4 linked regions of the Homo sapiens genome follow. The protein of the gene in region 1 interacts with the protein of each later gene in a biochemical or structural test. Each region holds a gene or a part of one and is shown on either strand. Other genes may lie near its edges. The genes, in order: ANXA2, MYOC, FBXW10 and TNC.

What was found.
Region 2: the proteins of ANXA2 (region 1) and MYOC interact in far-western blotting, tested with the Homo sapiens proteins (one study listed by BioGRID).
Region 3: of the proteins of ANXA2 (region 1) and FBXW10, one has a biochemical effect on the other in vitro, tested with the Homo sapiens proteins (one study listed by BioGRID).
Region 4: the proteins of ANXA2 (region 1) and TNC form a complex in vitro, tested with the Homo sapiens proteins (one study listed by BioGRID).

The regions. Positions count from the first base shown.
Region 1 is NC_000015.10:60,352,720-60,357,796, forward strand, and holds part of ANXA2 (annexin A2), read right to left. Parts: intron 4,518-5,077; coding exon 4,427-4,517; intron 3,280-4,426; coding exon 3,200-3,279; intron 1,495-3,199; coding exon 1,435-1,494; intron 1-1,434. UniProt on the Homo sapiens protein: Calcium-regulated membrane-binding protein whose affinity for calcium is greatly enhanced by anionic phospholipids. It binds two calcium ions with high affinity. May be involved in heat-stress response.
Region 2 is NC_000001.11:171,638,117-171,643,193, reverse strand, and holds part of MYOC (myocilin precursor), read left to right. Parts: intron 1-4,471; coding exon 4,472-4,597; intron 4,598-5,077. UniProt on the Homo sapiens protein: Secreted glycoprotein regulating the activation of different signaling pathways in adjacent cells to control different processes including cell adhesion, cell-matrix adhesion, cytoskeleton organization and cell migration.
Region 3 is NC_000017.11:18,756,683-18,761,759, forward strand, and holds part of FBXW10 (F-box/WD repeat-containing protein 10), read left to right. Parts: intron 1-1,622; coding exon 1,623-1,823; intron 1,824-5,077. UniProt on the Homo sapiens protein: Probable substrate-recognition component of a SCF (SKP1-CUL1-F-box protein)-type E3 ubiquitin ligase complex which mediates the ubiquitination and subsequent proteasomal degradation of target proteins. Overexpression is leading to degradation of CBX5 and CBX1.
Region 4 is NC_000009.12:115,107,399-115,112,475, reverse strand, and holds part of TNC (tenascin isoform 1 precursor), read left to right. Parts: intron 1-924; exon of another isoform or gene 925-1,047; intron 1,048-5,077. UniProt on the Homo sapiens protein: Extracellular matrix protein implicated in guidance of migrating neurons as well as axons during development, synaptic plasticity as well as neuronal regeneration. Promotes neurite outgrowth from cortical neurons grown on a monolayer of astrocytes.

The sequences.
Region 1 (5,077 bases):
CTCCTTCCTTGAATAAGAAAGGAGGGACCAAGAGCTTGTATTCATATAAAGAAGAACAAGTAAATGTTCATTAACACATCTGGCCCTCCTCCCTTTGGGCACATTTAGGGGCAGATAAGCTAGCAGATGTTTACTGGACAGCTACAGACCAGGCTCTCATTCTCAAGCTTCTCAGAGACTCAGGGAGTGATGGAGCTGGAAAAGGAGCCCATCTCATCTCACTTTCAGTTTCTGGAAAATTTAGGGGCTACAAGTAGCCCTAACAATGGCAGGGAGGGCAAGAGGAAGAAAGGCTTATGCAAGGGTAGATATTCATTCCGTGATCTTCCACCATCTAGGAACTGCAAAACCCAACTTCTATTACTTTATTTAAAACCCTTCTCTACTACCTGCTAGAAGTGCCGTGTGGAATATATTGAATTTTAAAACTAACATTAATTTAAATTAATTTTTTTCTGCAGCTTTTATGACTTACTTTGAGATAATCGTTGTCCCTCTGAGTAAAGAATATAGTTCATTGCAGTCTGAATAAGCTTAACAAATAGTTCTCAGAGATAATGGAACTAGAACTGGCAAAAGTCTTATTCAGCCAGAAAAGGACAGGTCTCTGCTGGCCTCCCTTTCTCCCCCACCACAACAGAGCAGTACACCATCCTGTCCCTGGCTGTGTCTCCTCCACCTTCTTCTGCTTCCCACCTGCCTGCCTGATTGGTATGCACAGCCACATTACACTCTGCAGAAACTGATGCTTCCATACAAGCAAAGCCTGAGTGAGCATATGTGAGTCACGTATTGATTCTGTAAGTAACACCAGCATTATAAGAGAATGTCTTCTAATAAACATTGCTGTCAGACTATGGTGGGTTTAAAATACGGCCAGAAATTCTTTGAGGTTCCTCCCTTCCAAAGGAAGAGCCTAATCCCCTCCCACTGAGTGTGGGCTAGACTCAGTGACTCACTTTTAATGAAAAGAGTATGACAGCAGTGCAAGGTGGGACTCCTGAGGTTAGGTCATAAAAGACACTGTGGCTTCCTCTTTGCAGATTGCTTGCTCTGGGGAAAGCCGGCTGCCATGTTGTGAGGACGCTCAAACAACCCCATGGAGAGGCATATGTGGAGCGATTCTAAGGTCTCCTACCAACAGTCATGTGAAGTGCACCATCTTGGAAGCAGATTCCCTTGACCCAGTCAAGCCCTCAGGTGACTGCAGCCATGCAACATTTTGTCTGCAACCTCAGAAAAGACCCTGAGCCAGAACAATTGGGCTAATCTACTCCTCAATTCCTGACACACAGAAACTGAGAAATAATACATGTTTGTTGTTTTAAGCCACAGAGTTTGGGAGTCATTTGTCACACAGAGTTAAATTACTATATAGACTATCCAGAGACTTACCAGAAAACAAAAACTCAAAGCAAAAAGCTCAGCACTTACCCGAGCATCTTGGTCAATCAGTTCATAATCAATGACAGAGCCATCCTCTGCTCTTCTACCCTATGGGGGAAAGAAAAAGAACTTCAAATACATTTCTTTGTGTATTTTAAAACTGAAAATGTTTTCTCCCCAGTCCATGTACGCCATTATTTAATTTCCTAAATAAGTAACCACGTAAGATTTTTCTTACTTTGAAACATAGATGGGGCCGGGCACGGTGGCTCACGCCTGTAATCCTAGGACTTTGGGAAGCCAAGGCGGGCAGATCACGAGGTCAGGAGATGGAGACCAACCTGGCTAACAAGGTGAAACCCTGTCTCTACTAAATTAGCCAGGCGTGGTGGCACATGCCTGTAGTCCCAGCTACTCGGGAGGCTGAGGCAGGAGAATCGCTTGAACCAGGTTGCTGTGATCTGAGATCACGCCACTGCACTCCAACCCTGGTGACAGAGTGAGACTCTGTCTCAAAAAAAAAAAAAAAAAAGAAAGAAAGAAAAGAAAAAGAAAAAGAAACCTAGACCAGCCAAGGAGTGGTAAAATCATTGAGCAAGGAAGTGGGGGCTGTGCCTTGCCATCAACAATCCCCCCCTTGATACCCAGTCCTGGCCTACACACCTTACAGAATCCCTGTCCCCATCCCCCACAAAAAGCTGATGAGATTTAGCTCTTTCTCACAGAGAGCTTGCAATGCAGATGGAGGAATATGTGGAAACAAATGTAAAGCAGCCCGGGAACCCACAGCACTAGAAAGACACAAAATGCGGGCGGAGGAAGAACTCTCAGAGGGCAGAGTCAGCAAAGAGTGTGAACGATGGGCCTGGGCTTAAGCTGAAACTTCAAGGGTCAGTCAGATGCAGCTAGCCAAGCAGAGCGGGAGAGCCAGCTGGCACACAAGGGATGGCACAGCACGCTCTCAGGTAAGTAAGGAGCTGCCCTGTCAGAGCAGAGCTGAGCGGGAAAGATGAGCAAAGAAGATGCAGGGAGGGTTTAGAGGACCTTTCACAGCAGTTAGGAGTTTAAATTTGATGCAGCAGAAATGGGGTTTGAACAGAGGAGTAAAATGGTGAAAGTGTATTTCACAGAGATCCGTGGATGGTGGTACATGGGGCAGGTGGTAGCGAAGAGAGGAGAGCGAGGGAGAATGGCATAGGAGTTGTTGCAGTAATGGAGATGTGAGTGGGCCGGACGCACTATCTGTCATTTGTCATCAGGGTTCCCAGGGTCTCTCGTCCCTCCCCTGGCACATAAGTATTAAGCTACACGCTGGCCAGAACTAGGGATTCACAGGGGAAATGCCCCTTCCTCCATGTTAATGTGTTAATATTAGCAATCAGCTCCACAAAGACAACTCCACCCCAGACAAAGGACTATATGGGCAAATTCTTCCATGAGAAGTAAACGCAGTGAAAAAGAAACCAGAAGGTCACTTCCCACTGGGTCCTGCATGACCACAGATAGAGGCAAAGTGACCTTCCCTAAGTCACACGGCCAAGGCTCTGGCACATAAATCCAGGCCAGGACTTGAGAGCCGCCCATCCCTTCTCTGGCTCCCAAAGTCCACTTGTCCATGAGGTTTTGCAGGATAAGAAATCCTATTATACAAAATTGACAACTCTGCAGTGACAGTGCAAACCCACTTTCAAAAATGCAGCTGAATTTCTGATGCAGGCACAGGGGATTTAGTTAATTCACTCCAAGTATAAAATGAGGTATGTGACTTGCCTTGGGAGGAAGCAAGGGCAAAGAAAGAAACTGGGAAACCAACCTTTGCCAGGGCAACCATCAGCTTGCGGAAGTCACCAGATGTGTCCGAAATAATGTCCTTCTCCAGATCAGTCTTGTACACTTGGAGGAAAATACATCTGGTTTTATGCTTTCTGCCTGTGTAGCCAACCATCCACCCCAATCTCCCCATTTCCCACTAAGACTCTGAGAAGCAGAACAGCTACGTCAGCTGGACATATCCATTCTCCTTAACCCCAAACAGAGGAAGGATTCACTAGAATGATTTTCGCCCTCATGAAATCAGAGCCAGAGTTATTATCCATAACAGGGGGCAGCAGGGCTAGATCAAATCAGGGATCCTCAGGCTCACCGTTGATTGGTGACCTCTCGTGTAGTTTAAATACTGGCTCCCAGCCCTCCTGACTGTGAGTACTTGTTCTGAACATCAAAAAAATTGGAGGTCTACACACGCACACACACACACACAATTGTGCTTTACTGTCCACTGAGAAAATGCACAGCGGCAAAAACTACTAAGAATTAAACAATGCTTTTGAATGAAAGTATATTTCAATATTCAAAATAGCATCTATATTGAAATACAGTAGCTAGAGAAGAACTGTAATGTTCCTGATACAAAAAAAAAGATAAATGTGTGAGGTGATGGATATCTCAATTACCCTGACTTGATAATTACATATTATATATAATACATGTACCAAAATATCACATGTACCCCCAAAATATGTAAAACTATGATAATAACTTTAAAAAGTAAAACAAAAAAGAAATGCAGTAGCGATGTAAGTTGCATTGTTTATTCCCCTCATAGCCTTCTATACTGCTAAGTGTGCACCAGTCCACAGGGGTCTCTTGCTGTAATTCTTCAATTATCCACAGTCCAGAGTTGGCAACCTCTTGAGCAGACACTGAACAGCGCCCAATAAGTGGAATCCATATATAATACTTGCTACTTCTCCTCATCCGATCTTGTTTAAAAACAAGTTTTGTTTTCTCTCCTTTCCCTCCTGTCTACCCTTCTTCTAACACAGAAGTTCTAGTGGAATGTAATAATCAAAATGCAGGCAATGAGGAGGTGAAGGAGAGAAACTTGGACCACAGCCAACCTTGCCTGCATAGTCAAGGTGGCAGGCACTTCTGCACATCACTAATGCAGGCATCTTAGCCCGAACCCTAACCCCAGTGGCCATGATAGAGTCACATAAATTGGGCTGAGAGGATGAATCACAGAAATCAAGCTACTCACTTTCCTTGTAGACTCTGTTAATTTCCTGCAGCTCCTGGTTGGTTCTGGAGCAGATGATCTCAATGAGAGAGTCCTCGTCGGTTCCCAGCCCCTGTGAACCAGGAAGCACGAACATCAGCAGGGAAATGCTTCCCCACCATTAGCCTACTTCTCTGATCTCCATCAAGTAAATTGCAAACATGGATTGGGTCTGTTAGCATCCTGCTTTCTACATTCCTTCTGAAGAATCTATACTCCTACCCCTTAGCACAAAGTAATGGCATTTTCTATTCCTTTAAAAAATGCTTCACCAGAGCACAAGATGGTGGAACTGGCATGTTGGAGTTCAACTGTTAATATGGTTTTTTTTTTTAAGTAGTGAATAGGGGCTGGGCACAGTGGCTCACGCCTGTAATCCCAGCACTTTGGGAGGCCAAGGCAGGCAGATCACGAGGTCAAGAGATCAAGACCATTCTGGCTAACACAGTGAAACCCCATCTCTACTAAAAATACAAAAAATTAGCTGGGCATGGTAGCGGGCGCCTGTAGTCCCAGCTACCCTGGGAGGCTGAGGCAGGAGAATGGCGTGAACCTGGGAGGTGGAGCTTGCAGTGAGCCGAGATCGCGCCACTGCACTCCAGCCTGGACGACAGAGTAAGACCCCATCTCAAA
Region 2 (5,077 bases), on another chromosome or scaffold:
TAAGGAAACTCCATTTGACCTAGTGAATCAGTCCCTGCCCTGGATACCCTCCTAGGCCAATGCAACCTTTAGAATGAAGAACAAAGGGGTTTCCTCACCCCTGCACAACCTCAGATAGGGAGAAGGAGACGCAGGGAATGAAATAAAAGTTTCCAGGACTCTCCAGGAGCCATTCAGATTGTCCAAGAAACTGGTTTCCGCAGCAGCCTGGAATAAACCCATTTTCCTTCTCGGGTATGAGGACTTTGCCAGATTATGATTTCCTTAAGGGCATGGACTGATTGTGTCTTTTTTTTTTTTTTTTTAAACATAGACTAGCCTATTAGACAAACTTGTGTCTTAGACACCTTTTTTTCTTGAGCACCTAGCACAGCCTTGCACTCAATAGGTGCTCCAATGATGTGACTAAAAGGATGGATAAATAGCTCTGTGGATTTGAGGCTAGGAATAATGAAGGCCTGCCATGTCCCGGGGGGTACTCCCAATTGCCCCTGGAGTTTGGAATGCACATTGAGGATGTCCTCAGTTACATATACATTTTGGCTTATGAGTCTTTCTTTTTTTAATTTTTTTTTTTTTTAAGACAGGGTCTCACTCTGTCACCCAGACTGGAGTGCAGTGGCATGATCATGGCTCACTGCAGCCTTGCCCTCTTGGACTCAAGAGTCATCTTCCTGCCTCAGCCTCCCGAGTAGCTGAGACCACAGACTGCACCACCACACCCAGCTAACTCTTTAATTTTTTGTAAAGATGGGGTCTCGCTATGTTGCCCAGCCTGGTCCCAAACTCTTGGCCTCATGCAATCCTGCCACCTCGGCCTCCCAAAGTGCTGGGTTTACAGGCATGAGCCACTGCGCCTGGCCAGCTTATGGGTTTTAACTACTTACATGGTGCACTCTAGACTGAGGGATATCCCAGGGATGGAGGACCCACCCACCTCCAGGGCATTAACACTTTTAGGGAGGCTAACAACTGCAGCCACACAGAGGCAGGGGTGGAGAGGAGAGAAGGGTAGCTGGGATCAGGGGCAGGCAGCTGCAGCAGCTACTGAGCTGGCTCACTGTGGGCAGCATGGCTGTCTGGCCCAGCCTGCACCTGAGAGCTAGCTGAATGTTTTCTTCACCTCCTTCCAGGGAGAAATTTTTTCCAGTACTATAATTTGTTGAAGCTGAACCCCAGCAACTCAAACAAGGTACCCTGACTCTGGAGATGTGAAAATGTAAAATAATGTGTGGCTTTGATGAAATGTGGTAGAACCAGAGGATTAAGACTTCTGTGGTGATCCTCTCTGCCTGAAATCTAAATTTAGGAGAGCTGAGCAAACAAATGATCAAAGGCAGAACATGTCTTCCCGACCCTCTCGGCTGTGTAGGCGCTCCGGCCTCAGGGGATGCACTGACTTTCCTCCCACTGTCCTGAACACCTGAGAATCCTGAGCGGGGAACAAGTTGCTCAAAGGGCAGAGAAGTGACTCAGAGGTTCAGCAAGAGAAAAGCCCAGTGTATTAAGCATGTCTTTTTATTCTGATGCTTTGCTGTCTGGGCCTTGCAAACGTGAGAGGGACTGCCCCTCCCAGGGGTAGCCAGTTCCTACGGTTAGCAAAGGACTCACCTGGGAGGACAGCTTTCATATGCAAACCAACCAATCCAGAGCCCACACCCTGTGACCACCTCCATCTGGCTCAAACTCAAGGCCACTGTCCCCCTGACCTAATCACCCAGGGCCTGGTACCAGACAATTAGAGATAACTCCTGTGACCCCAGATCCTGCTGAAATTATTCAAACTCCCCAATCCTAAACCTGCTTACCCTGCCTCCCCTTTCTTTCCTTCCCATGGAAAGAATAAAGGCGCTTTCCCACATTTTCCCCTGGTGCCCTCTTCTGGAGCAACCCTGGTGCTTCCCCAGGTGGCCTCCTGGGCTTAGTGTGCCCCCTTCCTCTTGGGCTCTGTGAGTACAACAACTTGTAAAGATAATTTTTTTTTAGAGCAGTTTTATGTTCACAGCCAAATTGAGAGAAAAGTACAAACAGTTCCCAGATACTACTGGCCCCCACACATGCACAGCCTCCCCGATTATCATCATCTCCCGCCACAGCAGTTGTTACAACTGATGAACCTGCATCAGCACGCACAACACCCAAGGTCCACGGTTTAAATTAGGGTTCATTTTTGGTGTTGCGCCTTCTATGGGTTTAGACAAATGCATAGTGACATGTGTCCACCATTATAGTATCATACACAGTATTCATTGCCCTAAAAATCGTCTGTGCCTCACCTAGTCATCCCTTCCTCACCCAACAACTGCTGATCTTTTTACTGTCTCCATAATTTTGCTTTAACTTGCTTTTCAGTGACAATTGCCTCCTGGGATGTTGGCCTTGCCACACCTGAATAATCATCAAACCTGCATTTTATTTGTTTTTATGTGTATGTGATGGGTTTTTTGGGAGGTTGGAGGGGAGGACAGGGTCTCACTCTACGCCAGGGCTGGAGTGCAGAGGTACGATCACTGCTCACCACAGCCTTGACCTCCCGGTCTCAAGTGATCCTCCCACCTCAGCCTCCCAAGTAGCTGGGACTGCAGGTACACATCACCACCCAGGCTAACTTTTTGTAGTTTTTGTAGAGATGGGATTTCACCATGTTGCCCAGGTTTGTCTTGAACTCCTGGGCTCCAGTGATCTGTCTACCTTGGCTTCCCAAAGTGCTGGGATTACAGGTATGAGCCACTGGGCCTGGCCAAACTGCATTTTAAAATAGCCAAGCCTGTTCCTTGTGACTATTGCCTCATCCTTGTATTCAAGACTGCTGTAAGATCATAATCCTAAGCAAGAGTAGAGACATGTAGCACACCATGATCACTTACTGTCTAACCAATGCTGCCCACCCGCTTCCCTTCTGTATGGCTCACCACCCCCACCCCAAACTCCTATAGGAACTCTGCACACACTCCCTCTCCATTATGCAAAACTGGTCTCAGAAAGGAATCAGACAGAATATTTCTACTGAAAGTATAAAGCTTAATATGTTACTTCTTACAAGAATATTTGCATATAACAAGGGAAAAAACCTTAAGTCATGCAGTAAACTTTTATCTTTTTTTTTTTTTTAACAGGAGTCTCCCTATGTTGCCCAAGCTGGTCTTGAACACCTGGGCTCAAGTACTCCTCCTGTCTTGGCCTCCCAAAGTGCTGGGATTACAGACATGAGCCACACTTCTTTTTTTTTTTTTTTTTTTTTTTTTTTCTTGAGACAGAGTCTTGCTCTGTTGCCCAGACTGGAGTACAGTTGCACAATCCCGGCTCCCTGCAACCTTTGCCTCCTGGGTTCAAGTGATCCTCAACCTCCTGAGTATCTGGAACTACAGGCATGTGCCACCACACCCTGCTAATTCTTGTATTTCTAGTAAAGATGGAATTTCACCACGCTGGCCAGGCTAGTCTTGAACTCCTGGCCTTAAGTGATCCGCCTGCCTCGGCCTCCCAAAGTGCTGGGATTTCAGTGTGAGCCACTGTGCCCGGTCTCTTTTTTTTTTTTTTTGAGACCTTGAGACCGGGCCTTGCTCTGTTACCCAAGCTGGAGTGCAGTGGCAGGATCATAGCTCACTGCAGCCTTGAACTTCTGGGCTCAAGCAATCCTCCCACATCAGCCTCCCAAGTACCTAGGACTGCAGATGCTTACCACCATGCCCAGCTAATTTTTCATGAATTTTTAATTATTGAAATTCAGACATCTAAGAAGATGCTGAGGACTGTCTCCATATTCCTGAAATTACGACTCACCTATTCACAAACCAGCCCTTCTAGTGGAATTAAAATATTATTTGATTTTGAATACCCTACTCTAAGGTAGGCACATTGCCCTGCAATTTATTATTTATGAGGTTTTTAATTATGGAATTGTTCAAATATTCACAAAAGTAGAGAGACTACAATGAACTCCAATGTAGCCATCACTCAGGCCCAACTGTTATCAGCACAGTCCAATCATGTTTTATCTTCCCTTCTCTGACCCCCAACCCATCCCCAGTCCTTATCTAAAATCAAATCTCAAACACCATATCTTTGGGAGCCTATTTATTTAGTTAGTTAGTTTTCAGACAGAGTTTCTTTCTTGTTGCCCAAGCTGGAGTACAATAGTGTAGTCTCGGCTCACAGCAATCTCCCCCTCCTTGGTTCAAGCAATTCTCCTGCCTCAGTCTCCCAAGAAGCTGGGATTATAGGCACCTGCCACCACATCCAGCTAATTCTTTTGTGTTTTTAGCAAAGACAGGGTTTCACCATGTTGGCCAGGCTGGTCTCGAACTCCTGACCTCAGGTGATCCGCCTGCCTCGGCCTCCCAAAGTGCTGGGATTACAGGCATGAGCCACCACGCCTGGCCGGCAGCCTATTTAAATGTCATCCTCAACATAGTCAATCCTTGGGCCATTTTTTCTTACAGTAAAATTTTGTCTCTTTCTTTTAATGCAGTTTCTACGTGGAATTTGGACACTTTGGCCTTCCAGGAACTGAAGTCCGAGCTAACTGAAGTTCCTGCTTCCCGAATTTTGAAGGAGAGCCCATCTGGCTATCTCAGGAGTGGAGAGGGAGACACCGGTATGAAGTTAAGTTTCTTCCCTTTTGTGCCCACGTGGTCTTTATTCATGTCTAGTGCTGTGTTCAGAGAATCAGTATAGGGTAAATGCCCACCCAAGGGGGAAATTAACTTCCCTGGGAGCAGAGGGAGGGGAGGAGAAGAGGAACAGAACTCTCTCTCTCTCTCTGTTCCCTTGTCAGAGCAGGTCTGCAGGAGTCAGCCTTTCCCTAACAAAGCCCTCTATCCTATCACCCACACTTGGGAGGCTGGGCTGGGCTGCACAGGGCAAGATGAGAGATGTGTTGATTTCATCCACTTGATTGTCATGTAGAATTAGATATACTTGAGAAGTTACATTTTTCAGTAGCGCCTTCATATCTTTATTTTAGGGACAGGTATACACCAAGCACCATCTCAGCCACAATCTGTTACTAACAGTATGTTTTCTGAACTTTGGCCACTTAGGAAAAGTACAGTTTGGCTCTCTCCAAAGTGTTCCC
Region 3 (5,077 bases), on another chromosome or scaffold:
ATGGTAAATATGACAATCGTATTTATAATTGCATACTCTGACATCATTTCAATATGCTGAGAGACGAAGTTCCTTTAATAAGCAACTTTCTGCCATATTTTGGGCCTAGGACTTCACTTTATATTCACAAGGTTTTGCAAAGTCCACTTCTACTTTATTTTTGGCCATGAATCTTATTAACAAATTGCATCTTGATAATAGAACAGTCGGTATGGGGAAGACAGAACAGATAAGACAGGGGAAAGGCAAAGTTGAGTTTTTATGCTTAGTGTGGTGATAACTGCTCTTTAGAAGAGATGGTGACTAGTTGAATTCTAGGTATGACCAACGGAATAAGGGCAAAAATGTCAAGAATTGCTCCTTATATATATGTGTGTACATATACACACACACATATATATATACACATATACACATATGTACATGTATATATATACATAAAAATATATGTATATACACACACACATATATATGTAGTTTAAAGAACAATTATCACCATACTATCTGTATTTCTTTTTTCAGAGTGAACCTCATTCTGTCGTCCAGGCTGGGCTGCAGTGGTGCAATCTTGGCTCATTGTAACCTCCACCTCCTGGGCTCAAGCGATTCTCCTGCCTCAGTCTCCTAAGTAGCTGGGACTATAGGCACATGCCACCATGCCTGGCTAATTTCTGAATTTTTTTGTAGAGACGGGGTTTCGTTCTCTGGTCAGGTTGGTCTCAAAGCTCCTCATATTTAGAGTGACTATACATCCCTGTTTATTGGAACAATCCCTCTCTAGTCTGCAGTCCTAGTGTCATTAATAATAGTGTCCCCAGGTTGGGCGTGGTGGCTCATGCCTGTAACCCCAGAACTTTGGGAGGCTGAGGTAGGAGGATCGCTTGAGGCCAAGAGTTGGAGGTTACAGGGAGTTATTATTGCGCCCCTGTACTCCAGCCTGGGTGACAGAGCAAGACCTTGTCTCTAAAAATAAATAAATAGTGTCCCCTTTCACAATAAAAAACTCTCAGTTTGGACAATACATTATTTGGTCATCCTGTTCATACTTTACCTATTTGCTAATAATCCTATGATTGAAAGACTAATTCAACTCACCTAGTTTTATGGGACAATAAGCTCATTGTAAGTAAGGTCCTTATCTGATAATTATTTATATTTCCTGTGGTATCTACTAGCACAGGACTTTGAACCTAATATATGCTCACTGGATATTGATTAAGGGAAAAAACAAAAGAAAAGAAATACAGTGTGCACAGGACTTCCCAACTGTGTTCCTCTGACGTTTTCCAAGAAAAAAGGTTTCCGTGATCAATTAAATCCGGGCAATGCCACATACTCCATTCTCTCTCTTGGGGATTTAGCATACATTTACAGAATTGTTAAAAAATTGCCTTGTGTCTCTAGTTTTTAAATTTAACGGAAATGGATTTTTGTCATCGTGTGAGAGTGGGGATCCCTCAAGGCCTGTTAATTCTCGACCTTGCCTTCTGCTGCCTCCCTTGTTGAAAGGCCCTGGATTTTCCTTTACACCACTGCTGTAGGCAAAAGTCATGGGGCTAAGTCAGTCCCAGGAGGGACACTGACTCTTCTTTCATGGATAATCCTTTTCCCCTGGCACTCAGGTGGGATCAAAACCGAGTCATCCACTATTCCGGGGGAGATCTGATAGCTGTGTCATCTAATCGAAAGATCCATCTTCTGGACATCATACAAGTGAAAGCGATACCCGTTGAATTCCGAGGCCATGCTGGGAGTGTCCGGGCCCTCTTCCTGTGTGAGGAGGAAAACTTTCTCCTAAGCGGGAGCTATGACCTAAGTATCAGGTGAGGAGTCCAAAGGCATCATGATCCCTGTCCCACCTAGGGCCTAGAGGCAGCTCATGGAAGAAGTGTGCATGCTTCTTCTTTTTATATTTAACAGTTTTCCTAGAAGATACTGACTTCTAGAATACCTTCAGCTTTTTTTTGGCAAGGAAAAAGTCAGGAATGTATATATTGCTTAAAATTTGAATGAGATGGATTTATAACAGTTATCAGATATATTTTCTAATTGATGACTGCAAATCAGAAAAATTTTCTTTATTAGCATTCTTAGAGGAAGAAATAATTTACATTTGTTCTTACAGACTCTTTCAGGGGAACGTGGTTTTTATGGGTTTGAGACAGACTATAGAGGCAAAATAGTGCTTTAAAAACACATACGTGGCCAGGCGCGGTGGCTCACGCCTGTAATCCCAGCACTTTGGGAGGCTGAGGTGGGCAGGTCACGAGGTCAGGAAATCAAGACCATCCTGGCTAACATGGTGAAACCCCGTCTCTACTAAACAAAATACAAGAAATTAGCTGGGCGTGGTGGCGGGTGCCTGTAGTCCCAGCTACTCGGGACGCTGAGGCAGGAGAATGGTGTGAACCTGGGAGGTGGAGCTTGCAGTGAGCCGAGATGGTGCCACTACACTCCAGACTGGGCGACACAGCGAGACTCCATCTCAAAAAAAACCACATATGTATATTTTTAAACAATATAACAAACACTCATGCATCCATTACTCAGGCCAAGAAATAAGATACCACCATTCCCCAACCCTCCCACTGTGCCCTTCTCTTCTTGCTTCTTCCTGCCAACCAGAGGTAATATTATTCTAATTTTATACTAATGATTCCCTTGCATTTCTTAATCATTTTTGCTTCCTTCTTATACATCTCCAGAAGTATTAGTTACTTGTGCCTGTTTTTGAACTCAACATAAAAAGAATCATATTTTAAAAATTTGTTGGTACCTCATTCTTACATGGAACTGTTTTTGAGATTCACCTATATGATGCAGGTGGCAGTAATTAACTTATTTTCACTGAGATACTGTATTAAATTGGATGATTGTATCGTAACTCATTTATTTGTTTTTCTGTTGGTGGACATTTGCATTGTTTCTAGTTTTTTGTTTTTTTTTTTGAGATGGAGTCTCACTGTGTCACCCAGGCTGGAGAGCAGTGGCGCCATGTTGGCTCACTGCAAGCTCCACCTCCCAGGTTCACACCATTCTCTTGCCTCAGCCTCCCAAGTAGCTGAGACTACAGGGGCCCGCCACCACACCAGGCTATTTTTTTTTGTATTTTTTAGTAGAGAAGGGGTTTCCCCATGTTAGCCAGGATGGTCTCGATCTCCTGACCTCGTGATCCACCCGCCTCGGCCTCCTAAAGTACTGGGATTACAGGTGTGAGCCACCGCGCCGGGCCCTTGTTTCTAGTTTTTAATTATTTCAAAGAATGCTGCCAGAGACGGGTCTTGGATGTGTCCCCTGGTGCCCATGTGCACGAGTTTTTTAAAGGTATATTCTTAGTATGGGAATTTCTAGGAAGGAGTACTAAACTGTTTTCCAATGTGGTTGTATTAATTTACATTCCCATTAGCAGCATATGAGAATATCTCTTCTTATATATTCTCACCAACACTTACTATTGACAGTCTAACAGTTTTGTCAATCTGATGGGTATTAAATGAAACCCACTGTGTTTTATTGGGGTTTAAATTTTAACTTTCCTGATTACTAATGAAGTTGAACACCTTTTCATATGTGTATTAGTCAGGGTCTCCAGAGAAACAGAACCAATACAATGTGTATATACATAGGAGATTTACTATAAAGTATTGACTTGTGTGATCAAGGTGGCTGGCAAGTCCAAAATCTGCAGCGTGGGGCCAGCAGGCTGGAGACCCAGGAGAGCCAACGGTGCAGATGAAGCCCAAAGGCCATCTGCCAGAGAATACCCTCTTGCCAGGACTATCTATTAACTGTGTTCATAGTATCTACATGAATTTTGTTGAACAAAAATTCTCAATATGGGCCAGGCGCGGTGGCTCATGCCTGTAAGCCCAGCACTTTGGGAGGCTGAGGCAGGCGGATCATCTGAGGTCGGGAGTTTGAGACCAGCCTGACTAACATGGAGAAACCCCGTCTCTACTAAAAATACAAAATTAGCTGGGCATGGTGGCACATGCCTGTAATCTCAGCTACTCAGGAAGGCTGAGGCAGGAGAATCACTTGAACCTGGGAGGTGCCACTGCACTCCAGCCAGGGCAACAAGAGCGAAACTCGGTCTCAAAAAAAAAAAAAAAATCTCAATATGAATGTAATAAAATATCAGTTTATCAGGGTTTTTTTTTTCTTCATTTCTGTGATTCTTCCCTCTTCTAGGTCATAGAGATATTTTCTAATATTTTCTTCTATCAACATTACAGTTTTATCTTTTGCATTCAGTTTTTTAATCTCTTTGCAATTCAACCTTGTATGTGGCATTAGGTAGGGTTTCCATTTCATTTATTCATATTTAGATAAAGTGAGCAGTTTCTCCCCCACAGCAACTACTATATAACCTGCCACTTCCTGCATTGATTTGAGGTGCTATCTTTATCACATTGAAATTTCCCATATGTGCATGAGAATGTCCCTGAGTTCTCTGATCTAGTCCACTGCCTTTCTGTTTTTAATCAAAATCCCCCTCCTTGAAAACTGTTTGTTTTGTTTTTAGGTATGCATTTGGAGAATGTTTTAAAATGTGACGGGGAGGGAAATTCTACTTTTCACTTTTCTTTTTTTTTTTTTTTAAGACGGAGTCTCGCTCTCTCGCCCAGGCTAGAGTGCAGTGGCGCGATCTCAGCTCACTGCCAGCTCCGCCTTCCGTGATCATGCCATTCTCCTGCCTCAGCCTCCCGAGTAGCTGGGACTACAGGCACCCGCCACCACGCCTGGCTAATTTTTTGTATTTTTAGTAGAGACAAGGTTTCTCTGTGCTAGCCAGGATGGTCTCGATCTCCTGACCTCGTGATTCGCCCGCCTCGGCCTCCCAAAGTGCTGGGATTACAGGCATGAGCCACCGCGCCCGGCCTCACTTTTCTTTTTTATGTAACAGCTATAGTATATAAGTTTTGAGTTTTTGGAGTAAGTTTACCAACTTTCAATAAAACCTAACTAGACTTTATTTGGGTTGCATTGAATTTATAGATTAGTTTGGTAAACACACTCAATTAGATCATCTGTGTTCTTTCTTAGAGCCTTAAAGTTTTCTTCATAAAAGTCCTGT
Region 4 (5,077 bases), on another chromosome or scaffold:
GAGAGACAGGGAGGCCAAGCAGGGGATTCCCCTCAACCTTATTTCAATGAAAGCCCCTCCACTTATCTATTTTGTACACTGAGCCTCCTCATGAAATTTTATTTGATGAAAGGGCTCTGTGCAGAAAAAACAGAATGTTTTTGTAAATTGCTGGCCTAGGTTAGCATACCTCATTTTAAAGAGGGTGAAACTGAGACATAGAGAAGGGAAAGATCTTTCTAAGATCTTCCGCCAGTTGGCAACAGGGTCAGGTTGGAATCCTAGGTCTTCTGACTCTTGCTCTTGGAAGCCAGGGACAATCTTAAAAGTTTCAGAATTAAGACATTCTTTTAGAAAAGAAAAATGAGCAGAGTCTTATTCTCTCAACAGCCTTAACTCACACGGACCGAGCCAAGGATGACTAGTATCTCCGTATTCATTATCTATTACTGCATACCAAATTACTTTAAATCAACACTCATTTATTATCTCATGGTTTCTAGAGGTCTAAGCACAGCTTAGTTGGATTTTCTGCCTCATGGTCTCTCATGAGGTTATTGTCTGTGTTGGACAGGGTTGATGTCTCATCTAAAGGCTGAATTGGGGGATGATTAGCTTCCAAGCTTGTTGATGTGGTTGTTGGCTGGACTCCATTTCTTGAGAGATATTGAACTGAGGGCCTCAGTTCCTTCAAAGCTGTTGGTCCAAGGCTACCCTCAGTTCCTTGCCACATGGGCTTCTCCAACAAGGCCATTTACATTAACAAAGCCAATGAGAAAGAGAGTTACCGGGCATGGTCGCTCACACCTCTTAATCCCAGCACTTTGGGAGCCCGAGGCGGGTGGATCACTTGAGGTTAGGAGTTCGAGACCAGCCTGGCCAATATGCTGAAACCCCGTATCTACTAAAAATACAAAAAAATTAGCCTGGCATGGTGGTGGGCACCTGTAATCCCAGCTACTCAGGAAGCTGAAGCAGGAGAATCACTTGAACTTGGGAGTCGTAGGTTGCAGTGAGCCAAGATCGAGCCATTCCACTCCAGCCTGTGCAACAAGAGCGAGATTCCATCTCAAAAAAAAAAAAAAAAAAAAAAAAAAGAGAGAGAGAGAGAAAGTCTATAAGCAAGAGGCACATCACAATCCTGTGTAACCTAATCATGGAAGGGATATTCCATCACCTTAGTCATATTCTGTTTGTTAGAAGAAAGTCACTGGGCCATCCCACACTCAAGGGGAGGTAATTGCACACGTATGAGAATGCCGGGAGGCAGTATCAATGGGGCCACCTTAGAGTCTGCCTGCCACAGCCTCCAGCACTCCAGTGTCACCAATTTCTGGCAACCTCTTATCAATGACAAGTTCACTCAACCCTTCAGTACCCTCACTGATGAGTAATAAAAAAATTGATCGAGACCATGGTGAAACCCCGTCTCTACTAAAAATACAAAAAATTAGCTGGGTGTGGTGGCGGGCACCTGTAGTCCCAGCTACTCAGGAGGCTGAGGCAGGAGACTGGCGTGAACCTGGGAGGCGGAGCTTGCAGTTAGCCGAGATCACACCACTGCACTCCAGCCTGGGCAACACAGTGAGACTCTGTCTCAAAAAAAAAAAAAAAAAAATTCTGGCAGCCACTAAAGTGGACTAGTTTTTATTTAACATCCTCCCATGTATATAGTGGAGCCAAGTGTTTTGATTAGTTGTTTTAACTCATTGGTTAGCCATAATTTCTCTTGAATTTCACCCCAGGGAGGGGCCTTTCACGGCAATGATTCCAAATGTATTTTATTCTAAAGCAAGACAGTCAGTGTGACCAAAACTAAAACTCATCCATTGTTCCTCCCTCAATCTATTCCTCTCAGCAGATATAATGAATAGTAACATCTTCGATTAATTCTTTTTTCTTTACTAACCCCACACACAAAATGTTGTAGTCTCTACTGCCTTGACAAGCAAATCTGTTCACTGCCTCCCCACTTTCTTGATCACCACCCCCTGCCCCACCTCCATTACCCCTGTAGTTCAGATCTTAGCATCTCACAGATGGGCCACTGCAACAGCTTTCCCACTGGCCCCCAGCAACCCAGCCTTCCCCTTCTTCAACCTGAGACATAGAGGTTAACATTCCTGGGCCTCAAGATTTCCAAATGCTTTTCTTCTGCCTGCAAAAAAGTCCAGATATTCTGACATTCAAGATTCTCCATGATCTTGCTTCTGGTCTCTAAACAGATCCTGTACTTCAGCTGTCATTCATACTGTTCACATCAACCCTTTTATTCTTTTTATATCCTTGTAAATGCCATTCCCTCGTGCCTAGAATATCCTTTTTTATGTTTTTCACCTATTCATATTTTTCTCTCAAAATTCAGTTCAGGCACCACTTCCTCCAGGTAAATTAGATGCCCTTTTACTGTCATCTCATTCTACCTATGTTTCTTTTTTTAAATCTATCATCTCCTTTATCATCCTGGAATGGCCTGTCTGCCCCTCTTGACAATATAGTTCCTAAAAGAAAAAATTGTATCTGGTTTATCTGAAACCTAGCACAACTGGAATAAAGTTAATCTTTAGCAATTAATAGGAGTCCTTGCTGTGTCCCAGATTTGGACATCCTCTTCCTTAGCAGTTTGCTCAGAAAGCCCAGAGCTTGAAGTTGTTTTCACGCTTCACCCACTGGCTTGCAAGTATGCAGTGTGATGACACAACATGTGATAGGAGGAAACCATCCCAGCCCTAGGACAGGAAACTGTCTCAGGACACAGACCTCAAGGAATGTGTTTGCTTTCAGAGGTGGCCTTCAGGATAAAAACACAAATTGCTTTGGATTTGGAAAAACCAGTACCAAGGACAGAGGAGTCCTGTCTGGGGATTTGAGGCTGAGTCACAAGAGATAGCTGAAAATCTGGAGGTTATAACAAAGATTAGTCAACAACTAATAGGAGGAAAGAACAGGCTCAAGGGTGGGATGGAGACAAAGAGCTCTCTATCTTAGGACATGGAGAAGCTCACAGCCCACAAGAAGAAATGAATAATGGTTAAGAGTATGACTTTGGCATAAGAATCCTCTGGGTTTGAGAGGTATTTGCTTGCTATGTGATCTTGGCCAAGTTACTTAGCTTCTTTAAGCTAATTTCTTCTTATCCATATTAAAAGCAAAGTAGTAGCACCTAGTTTAAAGTTTATTGTGATGATTAAATGATGTAGTTCATGAACACTGCTTAGCACAGAAACTGGCATTCAATATAAATGTTTTGTTGTTGTCATTGTTTTGTTACCTGTTGATCAAATAGTTCTTGATGATAAGATCCCACTAGAGAAGCAGTTCCCAAAAGTGTGTCATGTGGAAAAGCATTCTCATGGGAATCACCTAAAAAAGGGTTTTGTGGCCAAATGAGTTTGGGAAACACTTGGTACTCTTCTGTTCTTGGAAATGCACAGCTCATATGTCCATTCAATACATAGTTTTAGGGCTGGTGATACAATAGAAAGCAATACAGTCAAGATCCTTTTATTCATGGTGTTTACATTATGGTGGCATATCTTAGTTTGTACAAGCTGCTACAACAAAATACCATAAACTGAGTGACTTACAAACAACAGAAATTACTTTCTCACAGTTCTGGAGGCTGGGAAGTCCAAGATCAAGATGGCACCTTATATGTCCTCACATGGCAGAAGACATAAGGCAGCTCTATGGGGTCTCTTTTAATAAGGGCACAAATTCTATTTATGAAGCCTCTGCCCTCATGATCTAAGTACCTCCCAAAGACTCTGCCAACTAATATTGTCACACTGGTGATTATGTTCCAATGTGTGGATTTTGAGGGAACACAAACATTCAGACCATAGCAGGGGGAAGGCAGACAATAAAAAGGAATCACATAAACTTATAGCACAATTTCAGGTAGTGATATTTGCTAAGAAGAAAGACAAAACAAGGTAAGGGCATAAACAATGACTGGTGGTGAGAGGAGTGCTCTTTTAGATGGGGTGAGAGGTGAATGTGCCATTGTGCAGATGTCTGAATGAAATGAGAGAAGGAGCTCTGTAGGCAATGGCTAGGAGTTTGAATTTCATTCTGAGTGTGGTTAGAAGCCAATGGATGGTTCAGGGAAGTAGAGTGCATCATCTGAGATATCTTGCTGTAATTAATCTGTTCAACTTTCGTTAGCCCAGTATCTCCAAACATACCTGACCATAGGACATCTACCTAAAAACATCTTGCAACGTAGTCTGGGAAATTCTTCACTGGAGCACAAGGCTTCATAGATTTTAAAGGGACTGCAAATTTGCTCTTGTTCATCTAGATCTGCACTAAAAATCCAAACATACTGCTTGGGACAAAATAGGCATGCCCAGGAAGGAAAACCTAGCTCTAGAGGTAGAGACAAGCAGGATGTCATCCTAATTAGCAGCTCTTTTTGGCAAAGACAATCAATGAGCACAGCCAGGCCTCAGCAGATTCTGGAAGCCCATTTGATGCCAACGGAAACTCGCCAATATCTACCCAAGGCTAATAAGTGTTTGCAAACAGTACACCTTGGCTTAAGTATTCTCCAAAAAGGAAGTACATAAAACTTGAGATCCAGCCAGAGGTTCTGGGAGAAAAACAGAGGTCAAATATTTTGGTGCTTACATGTGCACAGCCACCAAAGAGCTGCTGAAGGTCTAGGAAATGGAAAGTGAGTTCATCCACTTGAATGCTGATCTCTTTCTTTATGGAGCAGTAAAAATTTAAGTTTTTACCTTATCTGAACTAAGAAAATTCCTTTAGGAGTCAGCCCAGTGTAGCTCAATGTAGTTGAAAGCAGACATTTTAGAACCACAAATAAATCAGGATTCAAAAGCTGGCTCTGCCTCTTAAGCCAGTCATGGAAACTCCCTGAGTCTCAAATTAATTTTCAAATAAGCATAATAATACCTAACTCACCAGGTTGTCATGACAAATGACAAGATAAATGATAGCATGAATAAAAAGCATTTAGTGTAAGATTTGGCATAAAAATGTATATAATAGGCACTCAACAAAATGTTAGTTTCCTTATTGTTCAATTCAATCTGTATTTAGTTTCATAATAGAAGCTGTCATTTATTGAATAACT